3 linked regions of the Homo sapiens genome follow. The protein of the gene in region 2 interacts with the protein of the main gene of each other region in a pairwise test. Each region holds a gene or a part of one and is shown on either strand. Other genes may lie near its edges.

Evidence for each region.
Region 1: the proteins of PRC1 (region 2) and LARP4 interact in a two-hybrid assay, tested with the Homo sapiens proteins (one large-scale study listed by BioGRID).
Region 3: the proteins of PRC1 (region 2) and KIF3B interact in a two-hybrid assay, tested with the Homo sapiens proteins (one large-scale study listed by BioGRID).

The regions. Positions count from the first base shown.
Region 1 is NC_000012.12:50,473,738-50,477,200, forward strand, and holds part of LARP4 (la-related protein 4), read left to right. Parts: intron 1-261; coding exon 262-430; intron 431-1,788; coding exon 1,789-2,127; 3' UTR 2,128-3,463. UniProt on the Homo sapiens protein: RNA binding protein that binds to the poly-A tract of mRNA molecules. Associates with the 40S ribosomal subunit and with polysomes. Plays a role in the regulation of mRNA translation.
Region 2 is NC_000015.10:90,980,890-90,984,542, forward strand, and holds part of PRC1 (protein regulator of cytokinesis 1), read right to left. Parts: intron 3,252-3,653; coding exon 3,129-3,251; intron 2,890-3,128; exon of another isoform or gene 2,803-2,889; intron 1,202-2,802; exon of another isoform or gene 1,093-1,201; coding exon 859-1,092; intron 781-858; coding exon 610-780; intron 145-609; coding exon 1-144. UniProt on the Homo sapiens protein: Key regulator of cytokinesis that cross-links antiparrallel microtubules at an average distance of 35 nM. Essential for controlling the spatiotemporal formation of the midzone and successful cytokinesis.
Region 3 is NC_000020.11:32,280,570-32,284,222, reverse strand, and holds part of KIF3B (kinesin-like protein KIF3B), read right to left. Parts: exon of another isoform or gene 2,350-3,653; intron 1-2,349. UniProt on the Homo sapiens protein: Microtubule-based molecular motor that transport intracellular cargos, such as vesicles, organelles and protein complexes. Uses ATP hydrolysis to generate force to bind and move along the microtubule. Plays a role in cilia formation.

The sequences.
Region 1 (3,463 bases), on a different chromosome or scaffold from region 2:
TGCCTGTAATCCCAGCTAATCAGGAGGCTAAGGCAGGAAAATTGCTTGAACCGGGGGGTGGGGGTGGGTGGGGGGGTGGGGGGGGTGGGGGGTGCGGGGCGGGCAGAGGTTGCAGTGAGCCAAGAGCATGCCACTACACTCCAGCCTGGGTGACAGAGTGAGACTCCGTCTCAAAAAAAAAAATTACGTTTTCTTCTGATTAGTTGCTCAACTGTTCCTATATGCTATTCTGAGTCTAATTGCAAGCTCTTTTTTCCTTAGCACAACTCAGCAAGAAAAGGATCTAATAGAAGATTCCTCTGTTCAGAAGGATGGTCTCAATCAGACAACTATACCAGTTTCTCCTCCAAGTACTACAAAGCCATCGAGGGCAAGTACTGCTTCACCATGTAATAATAACATAAATGCAGCTACAGCTGTGGCTCTACAGGTAACTTGAAGATTTTAGTTTATGTTAAAAAAAATACAATAGATTAGATTTTTTTTTTTTTTTCACGTAACACTTTGTTAGAACAGAGTCATTTGGAAGTAGCCCAAGTTGGGGCTGACTATCAGAAAGAAGCTTAAGGAGTGTTAGGGTCACTGCAAAGAGATGGAAAGTTTTAGGCTTTTTTTTGTTTTGTTTTGGAGACTGAGTCTTCACTCTGTCGCCCAGGCTGGAGTGCAGTGGCACGATCTCGCGTCACTGCAAGCTCCGCCTCCCGGGTTCACGCCATTCTCCTGCCTCAGCCTCCCGGGTAGCTGGGACTACAGGTGCCCACCACTATGCCTGGCTAATTTTTTGTATTTTTAGTAGAGACGGGGTTTCACTGTGTTAGCCAGGATGGTCTCAATCTCCTGACCTCGTGATCCACCCGCCTCGGCCTCCCAAAGTGCTGGGATTACATGCGTGAGCCACCGCGCCTGGCCCATTCTGTTTCTTTTGATTGCTTTTTTTCTGTTCATATGGTTAAGTGAAGCTTCTTCCTTACCCACGTTAGGATGAATTTATCATTTTGGGGCTAACATAAAGAGGCCTTGTGCCTCTTGATATTCTTTTGGTTGTATATGTGATACTTAACAAGTCTATAAGTGGCCATTGAGAGGCCACTCCCATTTATCAAGTTCCAGAATTGTTTTATAGTTATATAATTGGGAAAATACAGAAAAGCAGAACAAAACACAAAATTTACCTATAATCCCTAGCATTTTAGTACAGCACTTTTAAAAATAGATTTAGAAGACTATCTTCTCATTCAATGATAGTAATAATACTAAAATAATAGCTACCATTTGAATGCTTACTATATATTATTAGGACTAGTGCTGAAGACTTTACATGTTTTATTCTGTTCTCACAATACCTCTATTCCACCTTTTTCAGTTGAGGTAATTAAGACTTTTAATGAGTCTTTTTATACCATTGGATTCTAACTGCTCTGCTGGGATTCTTTTGTCATCTTTCTTGGGGTTCTTTGTAGCAAGGAAACAGGAGCAGAAAGAACCATTTTATTTCATCATATGGCTATACCATTATTCATCTAATCTGTCCTTTGTTAGGCATTTAGGTCGCTCCCATCATTATAAACAACGCTGACATGAACATCCTTCAGTTAAATTCCTTACGTGAAATTATTGTATAATAAATAAAGATTGTACCAGTGTACTCTAAGCAGTATATATGAGAGTGCTTGTTGCCCTTTTCTGGAAGATAATCTGTGGTTTTCTTATGGTTAACACAATCATTTTTATACTTTATAATTTAAAGAATGTGTACCATAAATGTTTTTTTTTATCATCACTTCAAAGGAACCCCGAAAGTTAAGTTATGCTGAAGTGTGCCAGAAGCCCCCTAAAGAGCCATCTTCAGTTCTTGTGCAGCCACTACGGGAACTTCGCTCCAATGTGGTGTCTCCCACCAAAAATGAAGACAATGGAGCTCCTGAGAACTCCGTTGAGAAACCACATGAGAAGCCAGAAGCAAGGGCTAGTAAGGATTATTCTGGCTTCCGAGGCAATATAATCCCCAGGGGAGCAGCAGGAAAAATCAGGGAACAGAGACGCCAGTTTAGCCATAGGGCTATACCTCAGGGAGTGACTCGACGTAATGGCAAAGAGCAATATGTGCCACCCAGATCACCAAAGTAAAAAACAACAAAACTATTCAAAAACTTCACTCTCTTCCCATTAAACTTGAACTGTGGCTATATTGAACTGTTTTGGAGGGGAGGGGGTAGCCAGGAAGGAAACAAGAGAAAGTACGTCCATTTCATTATGGATTTTGGAGTTGTGAGTGATAGGATCCCAAAATTCATCTCTAATGTGGTTTTTAAATGCTGGAGGATTCCAATCAATATAAATATATATATATATATACACACACATATATAAAAAGTATAATTTTTCTATTTTTGTTTTTGGTTTTAATTTGCAGAGATTTGCTGCCAGGAATCAATTTTGAGGGTTCAGATTTAGCTTGGAAGAAAAAAAAGAAACATACATCCTTCAGTATAGGAGATGAGGGAATGAGAGAAAATATTTTTTGAAGAAGCATTTCTGTAAAATTAGAAATTACTTTTTTTAATCTATTTAAAGTTTGGCTTGAAGAATGCCATCTCTGACTATATGGCCTTGTATTGCAAAGCGGATCAGTGGCTGGGGTGCCTGTTGTGGGTGTGAGTGTGTACAAGAGCGATTGAAGCCAAATCTGTTGTCATGTTAGTAAATGATTTGAAAACTGAATGTAATACTTGAGTAGATTTTTTTTTCTAGTTTGAAATTTAGTCTGTCTTTTTGACCTTACTAATATTTCATTTAACAAGTTGTAAAACTCTGATTGTACTTAGAGATGTGACTACCAATCAGTTTGATACTCAAGGAAAGGGGGTTATTCAAGAAATTGAAAATTTCATCTTGGACCTCAGTGCATAGGTCAAATGGATTTCAGAGGTTTAAACTTCCCTGTGATTCCCCCGAATACCCCCAAAATGAGAAACAAAATTTTTTTTCTTACTCCATTTGTTACTCTCTGTTCTTTGACTGCCCACCCACAGAAAAGCAAAATAACCAACTACCTACTCAATTGTGTGTTTGTAATTGCTTTGAGCAGTCTAGTCAAATCATATAAATTGTTCTAAATTTCAGAATTGAACATTGAAGTATTAACTCTTCTGTTCACACATTTAGAATTTTAGCTCCCAAGATGGTAGGGCAGACTGACCGTACAGTAATTTATTTGTCGTTAGTGTTAAAGATTAAGCATAGTAACTGACTCTTAAGTGTTAAATAATGTAGAAGTAAAAAAATTTTTTTTAAAGGCTTAATTTGGGAGGGGGGACTTATTTCTGTTTACAGTGTATTACCTTCCTTCCCTCCTCTTCTCCCCCCACACCCAACAAAATACAGTTTGGAATTCACTGAAACAGTACCAGCAAGTCATGAGATTTTTTAGTAAAGATGAGAAAGATGGTTGAAGAAAATTAGT
Region 2 (3,653 bases):
CCGGACCTTGGCCTTTGACCCAGACATAATGGTGGCCACAGCTTCTCTTTCTTCTTCAGGTATTTGCAACCTGTCCCAGAGCTCTCGGATTTGAGTACGCAGCCCCTCACACACTGCTTCATTTTGTGATTTCTGCATTTCCAGCTACAGCATAGAAAGCCAGTGTCACTCACGGCAAAGCAGCAGCACAGAGGCTAGCCCTCTAGCCTCCCGCAAAGAAATGTCTGGAGTAGAGGAGGAGGCACTTTCATGAGAGTTCAAAGTAGCATGTTTTCATGCCTCCTAAACACGAGCTGTAAGGCTGTCGGGATCTCAGACCCCAAGAATTAGCATTCAAATTTAGAACTGAAAAAAATTTTAATTAAACACTAGTCTAATTCAAATGACTAATATTATTTCATCTATAATTTCATTTTCTTGGAGCCATATAAAGGTTTTTTAACTGTTAAACAAAAATCAAGGTTGTATATCATATATTACTATCCTTAGCTTCCCTCATTCTCTTACCTTACATTGTCTCCTTATTTAAGACTGAAGAAACAGCTGTCAGTTTTGTTCAAACTGCTATATACTACGGAGATCCTAGGGCATAATTTGAGAAGACAGTACCTGCCGTAGCAACTTTTGTAGTGTTGCAATATTCTCCAAAGACAAACAAAAGGCATCTTCGTCTTCACACACCACATCTCTTTCAAAGCTTGTGTCTGGGGTGTGGTCTAATGCTTCCATACACAGTATGATCTGTCTCTTTATACTGACAAACTCCTCACGCCTAGAAGCCTTTAAAACAAAGCAATTACAAGATACCTAGAGGAAAACCAAAGTGACTTTTAGGAAGAACAAATGTAGGCAGTGTACCTTTGTTTCCCTCAAAGTTGTCACATGTTGCCTGAACTGGTTCAGCTCTTCTAAGCTGGGCACTGAGGCACTGTCAATATCATAGTGGGGCATACAAAGAATTTCGCACAGTTCTTGATCTTGCTCTTGAAGTAGCTTCAGTTCCTGTTTTCTCTCCTTTTTCTGTTTTCGCATCAATTCCACTTGGGTGCGCAAATCTTTTTCTAGTTGCAAGATGGTCGTCTCTCCTTCTTCCTGAATAAGACAACGTACCACTGTTATAAGATTCCAAGTGAATTCCTTCAGAGGAAGAGAAGGACAACATAAGAAGGCGTGGATGACAGACTTTCAGTTAAACTAACAAGTAAGTCAACTCATGGTCAACAGAATATGGCACAAAGAGGGTCTCCTAAGGAAGGTCCCAGTGAGGAAAAGTGAGTAAGTACCAGGGTACTTTTCCCCCCAATTTTAAAACTTGTGGTAGAACACATATAACATAAAATTTACCATCTTAACCATTACGTGTACAGTTCATTGGTATTAAGTACAGTCATATTGTTGTGCAATCATAACCATCACCTCCAAAACTCATTTCCTCTTGCAAAAGTGAAACTTCATACTCAAACAAATAAGTCCCCATTTTTTCCCTTCTCCAAGCCTGGCAACCACCATTCTACCTTTTGTCTCTATGATTAGACTACTCCAGGCACCAGGCACTTTTATAGAATGTGTAAATTGGCAGCCAGGCACGGTGGCTCACGCCTATAATCCCAGCACTTCGGGAGGCCAAGGTGGGCAGATCACGAGGTCAGCAGTTTGAGACCAACCTGGCCAACATGGTGAAACCCCGTCTTTACTAAAAATAGAAAAATTAGCCAGGCATGGTGGCGGACACCTGTAATCCCAGCTACTCGGGAGGCTACGGCAGGAAAATCGCTTGAACCCGGGAGGCGGAGGTTGCAGTGAGCCGAGACCACACCATTGCACTCCTGCCTGGACAACACAGCGAGACTCTGTCTCTAAATAAATAAAGAAATAACAGTGTAAATTGGCTGGAAAGCTTGCTTTGGGTTAGCTATAGGGTGGCATGCCTAGCTCATATCTAAATACTCATCCTGCTAATCCTATGAACATCGTCTCACCTTAGCAACAAAAACCCATCTGGTAGTCCCTGCTCTACTCCTAACTGGTTAACAAGAAAAAAAAAAGTGGCATTTTTTTATAGGACATATACATTTTTCTTAAATGTCCTATACATTTACACAATTTCATTTAACATTGTGAACTAGGAACATCAGGTAACTTAAGGGAGATGATCGTTGTACACCTCACTTCTCGCCCAATTTCACATGGAATGTGAAAAAAGAAAGAGAAACTATGTCCAAAATCAATTATATTTATGACATTTATGTTGACTCCAGGAAGCTCCACTTCATGTTCTCTTCTGCCTGATTGCTCTTGGCTACCAAGTATGAATTATCCTTTGCCCTTTAAAGGTGATCTCCCTCCTAAGCTAACTCCAAATAGATATCCAGGCAGGTCTTCCTGTAACAGGAAGAGGGACCTGAGAACCTTATGGGTGTACTCATTGTCTTTCCAAGCTCCACATCTGTCCTAATTTTTATGATCCTGGCACTATTTTTACTGGTTCTAAGCAGAGATTTTCAGGACCCCATCTGTTATTCATTTCATCCTTGCTGTGTCCTCACTCAAGTCCCTGACTTGCAGTGGACCACAATATAGCCACTTCTCAGCTCCATACCCAGATGGATGTCATGGCATGCTCTGAAATGGACTATGCACTCCCAGTATTCCAGCTTTTGAGACATTTCTTCTGAAGAAGCCATTTTGGCTGGTTCAGTGGTATGCAGCTTCTGGGTATGATAAAACCCACAAAGGTTGGTGTTTTCATAGTATTCCTTTTAATCATTAGTTACTTTTGTTCCTGTTTTCATTTTCTTTCAGAGAAAGAACACTGCAGCACCATCTATGCCTACCTTTTTCTCAGCGTTTATAAAAAAAAATTCATATTCCCTACAAAGCAAAACTATGGTAAGCAGCAGCTTCTTTTTGATCATCTATTAGTTGCTTCACCTCTTACCAGGGCAACTCTCTACAGAGGTGAGAATTACTCTGCTGGGCCTAATTAACTACACAGCATGTTTTCCCCACTTCTTACGTCTAGCTCCATCCCTACGAGGAAGCCTTCCATCTGCAGGCCCAAGTCAACGTTGCTTTCTAAGTCTCAGGCCCCAGACAGATCACCAGAGACCCTGTGGGCTGCCACGGACCTGAAATGGCTCAACATGTAACTCGCTGCACAGAGTGTTCAGCTCTTTCTGACAGACGGATATGCTTTTGATGAGTCTTTCCTTCAGGCTTTCCTCTTCAGCAATCATCATATCCAGGAGTTCCTACAAGAGGGAAAACAGTCCATAAGTTTGGGGCAATGGAGGAAAAAAACTCCCAACACCAATACCAAACTCCTCAAATTTCTTTTTTCTTTTTCTTTTTTTCTTTGAGATGGAGTCTCGCTCTGTTGCCCAGGCTGGAGTGCAATGGCGTGCTTTCGGCTCACTGCAACCTCTACCTTCCGGGTTCAATAGATTCTCCTGTCTCAGCCTCTTGAGTAGCTGGGATTACAGGTGCTCACCACCATGCCCGGCTAATTTTTTTATTTTTAGTAGAGACGGAGGTTCACCATGTTGATCAGGCTGGTCTTGAACTCCTGACCTCAAGCAATCCATGCGCCTCGGCCTCCCAAAGTGCTGGGATTACAGGCATGAGCCACCGCACCCAGCCTCCTCAAATTTCAA
Region 3 (3,653 bases), on a different chromosome or scaffold from region 2:
TCATGCCTGTAATCCCAGCACTTTGGGAGGCTGAGGCAGGAAGATTGCTTGAAGCCAGGAGTTTGAGACTAGCCTGTAACATAGCAAGACCCCATCTCTACAAAAAATAAAAATTAAAAACAAAAATTTTTTTTTTTTAATTAGCTGGGTGTAGTGGCATGCACCTGTAGTCTCAGCTACTTGGATGGCTGACGTGGGAGGATCGCTTGAGCCCAGGAGTTGGAGGTTACAATGAGCTATGACTGCACCACTGCACTCCAGCCTGGGCAACAGAGTGAGACCAAGTTTTCTAAAAAAATTAGCGGCTCATGCCTGTAATCCCAGCACTTTGAGAGGCCAAGGTGAGTGGATCACTTGTGGCCAAGACGCCTGGACAATACAGTAAGACCCGTCTCTACAAATTTCTTTTTTTTGAGATGGAGTCTCACTCTGTCACCCAGGCTGGAGTGAAGTGGTACAATCTCAGCTCACTGCAACCTCCGCTTCCTAGGTTCAAGCGATTCTCCCGCCTCAGCCTCCGAAGTAGCTGGGACTACAAGCATGCACCACCACACCCGACTAATTTTTGTATTTTCAGTAGAGATGGGGTTTCCCCATGTTGGCCAGGCTGGTCTTAAACTCCTGATCTCAGGTGATCCACGTGCCTCAGCCTCCCAAAGTGCTGAGATTACAGGTGTGAGTCACCATGCCTAGCCATCTACAGAATTTTTTTTTTTTTTGAGACGGAGTCTCACTCTGTCGCCCAGGCTGGAGTGCAGTGGTGCGATCTCAGCTCACTGCAACCACCACCTCCCGGGTTCAAGCGATTCTCCTGCCTCAGCCTCCTGAGTAGCTGGGATTACAGGTGCGCACCACCACGCCCAGCTAATTTTTGTATTCTTAGTAAAGAAGGGGTTTCACCATGTTGGTCAGGCTGGTCTCAAACTCCTGACCTCGTGATCTGCACACCTCAGCCTCCCAAAGTGCTGGGATTACAGGCATAAGCCACCACACCCGTCCCCAAAACATTTTTTTTTAAATTAGCCAGGCACGACAGTACATGCCTGCGGTCCCAGCCACTCAAGAGACTGAGGTAGAAGGATCACTTGAGCCCAGGAGTTCAAGGCTGTGGGGGAGCCATGATCACACCACTGCATTCCAACCTGGGTGACAGAGGGAGTCCCTGTCTCCAAAATGAATAAATTTATTAAATTTAATTAAATAAACAAGTGGCAGTGATAAGACTATTAGTTTTACTATTCACAATGTTGAATGTACAACCCTGTAATGCCCAGATTTACAAGTACAGTTACTGGAATACATAACAATGAAGCTCGAATTCCCTTGCTCAGAAGAGATTCAAGAATCCTCTAGGAATTCTGGTAGAGTACAATAGGTTTTCCAGGGATTCTGAAGTCAAAAGCTCTGAAACTTCAGAACTGTCATTTGGTGACCAGGAAAGAACCACTTTGGCAGGGAGAATGTGGCCATTTGGCACACCAAGTGAACTTCACTAGTGATTCCGCTCCCTCTTCCAGAGCTGGCCAGGCTCCCTCAGCCAAGATCCCGAGTCAGCACTGCAATGCCAACAGCACAAGACAGAAAGACAGATGGGTACTGCCCTGGCAAAGCCCACACCTGCCGCTCCACAGGCTGGCAAAAAGCCAGACTGTAGAAAAGCAGGACTTTTTTTTTTGGTTCACAGTAAGAACGTCAAGCTTCAATCAGTTGCACCTGGCTAGCTTCTGCCAGCATAATCTGGGATTTCCTCCCCACAGACTATAAAGTATGATGCTTATACCTTGTGCCTCTCCTCTACAGGGTTCAAAATAAACTATGAATAATTCTTCCTCATAGGGCCCCTTACCAAAAAGTCCTTTCATCATTTCAGAGGCAGATGGCATCTCTAACATCTACTTAATTGCTCAGGCCAAAAACCCAGGAGTCATCCTTATTCTCTCACCCTCATCCCGCCATCCTGCTGGTTCTACCTCCGAAACACATCCCCAATCCGTCCTCTTACCATCTCCACTGCCACCAACCTAGAAAGCCACTATCTTCTCTCACCTAACCTCTTAACTAGCCTCCTGGCTGCCACTCCTATGCCCTCTAAAATTCACTGCCACAAAGAGGCCAGAGTGATTTTTTTAAAAAACAAAAATAGATCATGCCACGTCCCTTCTCCAGAACCTCCAATGATTTCCACAGCTTTTAGAACAAAATCCCAACTCATTACTCTAGCAGACAAGGTCCTGTATGATCTGAGCGCTCCCTACCACTTCCATCCCCTACATCCACCCACCTCCCCACTCTGCCTTTGACTCACCTGTCCCTGCCATTGTAAGCCTTCTTGCAGTTTCTGGAACTTACCAAGCTTGTTGCCACCTCACAGCCTTTACCCTTGCTCTTCCTTCTGACATGTCTTCAAATGGCTGGCCCGTCCCTGGGAGCAAATCTCAGCAAAAACGTCACCATCCTAGCAAGGCCTTTTCTTTTTCTTTTTGTTTGTTGGGTTTTTTTTCTTTTTGAGATGGAGTCTCGCTCTGTTGCCCAGGCTGGAGTGCAATGGCGCAACCTCGGCTTACTGCAGCCTCTGCTTCCCAGGTTCAAGCAATTCTTGTGCCTCAGCCTCCTGAATAGCTGGGACTACAGGCACGTGCCACCACACCCAGCTAAGTTTTGTATTTTTAATAGAGATGGGATTTCACCCCAGCACTTATTCCTCATCCAAATTCCCTTGTTCATTTACTGCTGTATTTTTCTGTTTGCTGCCAGTAGAATATAAGCTGCATGAGAGCAAGGGACTCTGTACCTTTCTACCATGATATCTCCAGGCTAAAACAGAACTGACACATTCTAGGTGCTCAGGAAATACTGAATAAATACAATCCGGGCAGGATAGTGGTAAGTACACTGAATTTGAAGACAGAAGACTGGATTTCAACGTGAAATGGGCCACTCAATAGCATCATGGCTTCTTGGCTTCCATTCAGATTCCTCGACTATAAAACAGAGATCCTAATCTGCACCTTACCTTCCTTGAAGGGACACAGATAAGATTAAATGAGTAAAAGCATGTGTAAGCAAGTGTAGGCATTTTTGTAAGCCATTAGGCACCTTATTGTTATTGTCAAGTATTGCTACTCTCTGTTACATAAGACGGGGTCTTTCTCAGGGACTTGCGAATTAATGGATGAAAAGGCTTAGGAAGCAATCTGAGGTTTCTAATCCAGGCACCTAACAGAAGTCTAGGGACACAACAAAACAGATTAGAATCAGTGGCTTCACTCTGCAGCCAAGGCAAACATAAGATATGAATTCATTTAAAGATGTCAAATGCAGTAATTTGCAAATTAAGCTCTGAGTTCCTCGAAGGATATGGAGATGGGATTGACCTCCACATCCTCCATGTGCCTAGCATAAGGGGATTTAGCAAATATTTACTGAATTGGATGTTGAGCTACTAAACCTAACGTCCTACCATCAGCTTTCATCTTTCTTTCTTTTTTTTTTTTTTTTTTTTTTTTTTGAGACGGAGTCTTGCTCTGTCGCCCAGGCTGGAGTGCAGTGGCGCAATCTTGGCTCACTGCAAGTTCCACCTCCCCGGTTCACGCCATTCTCCTGCCTCAGCCTCCCGAGTAGCTGGGACTACAGGCGCCCGCCACCATGCCCAG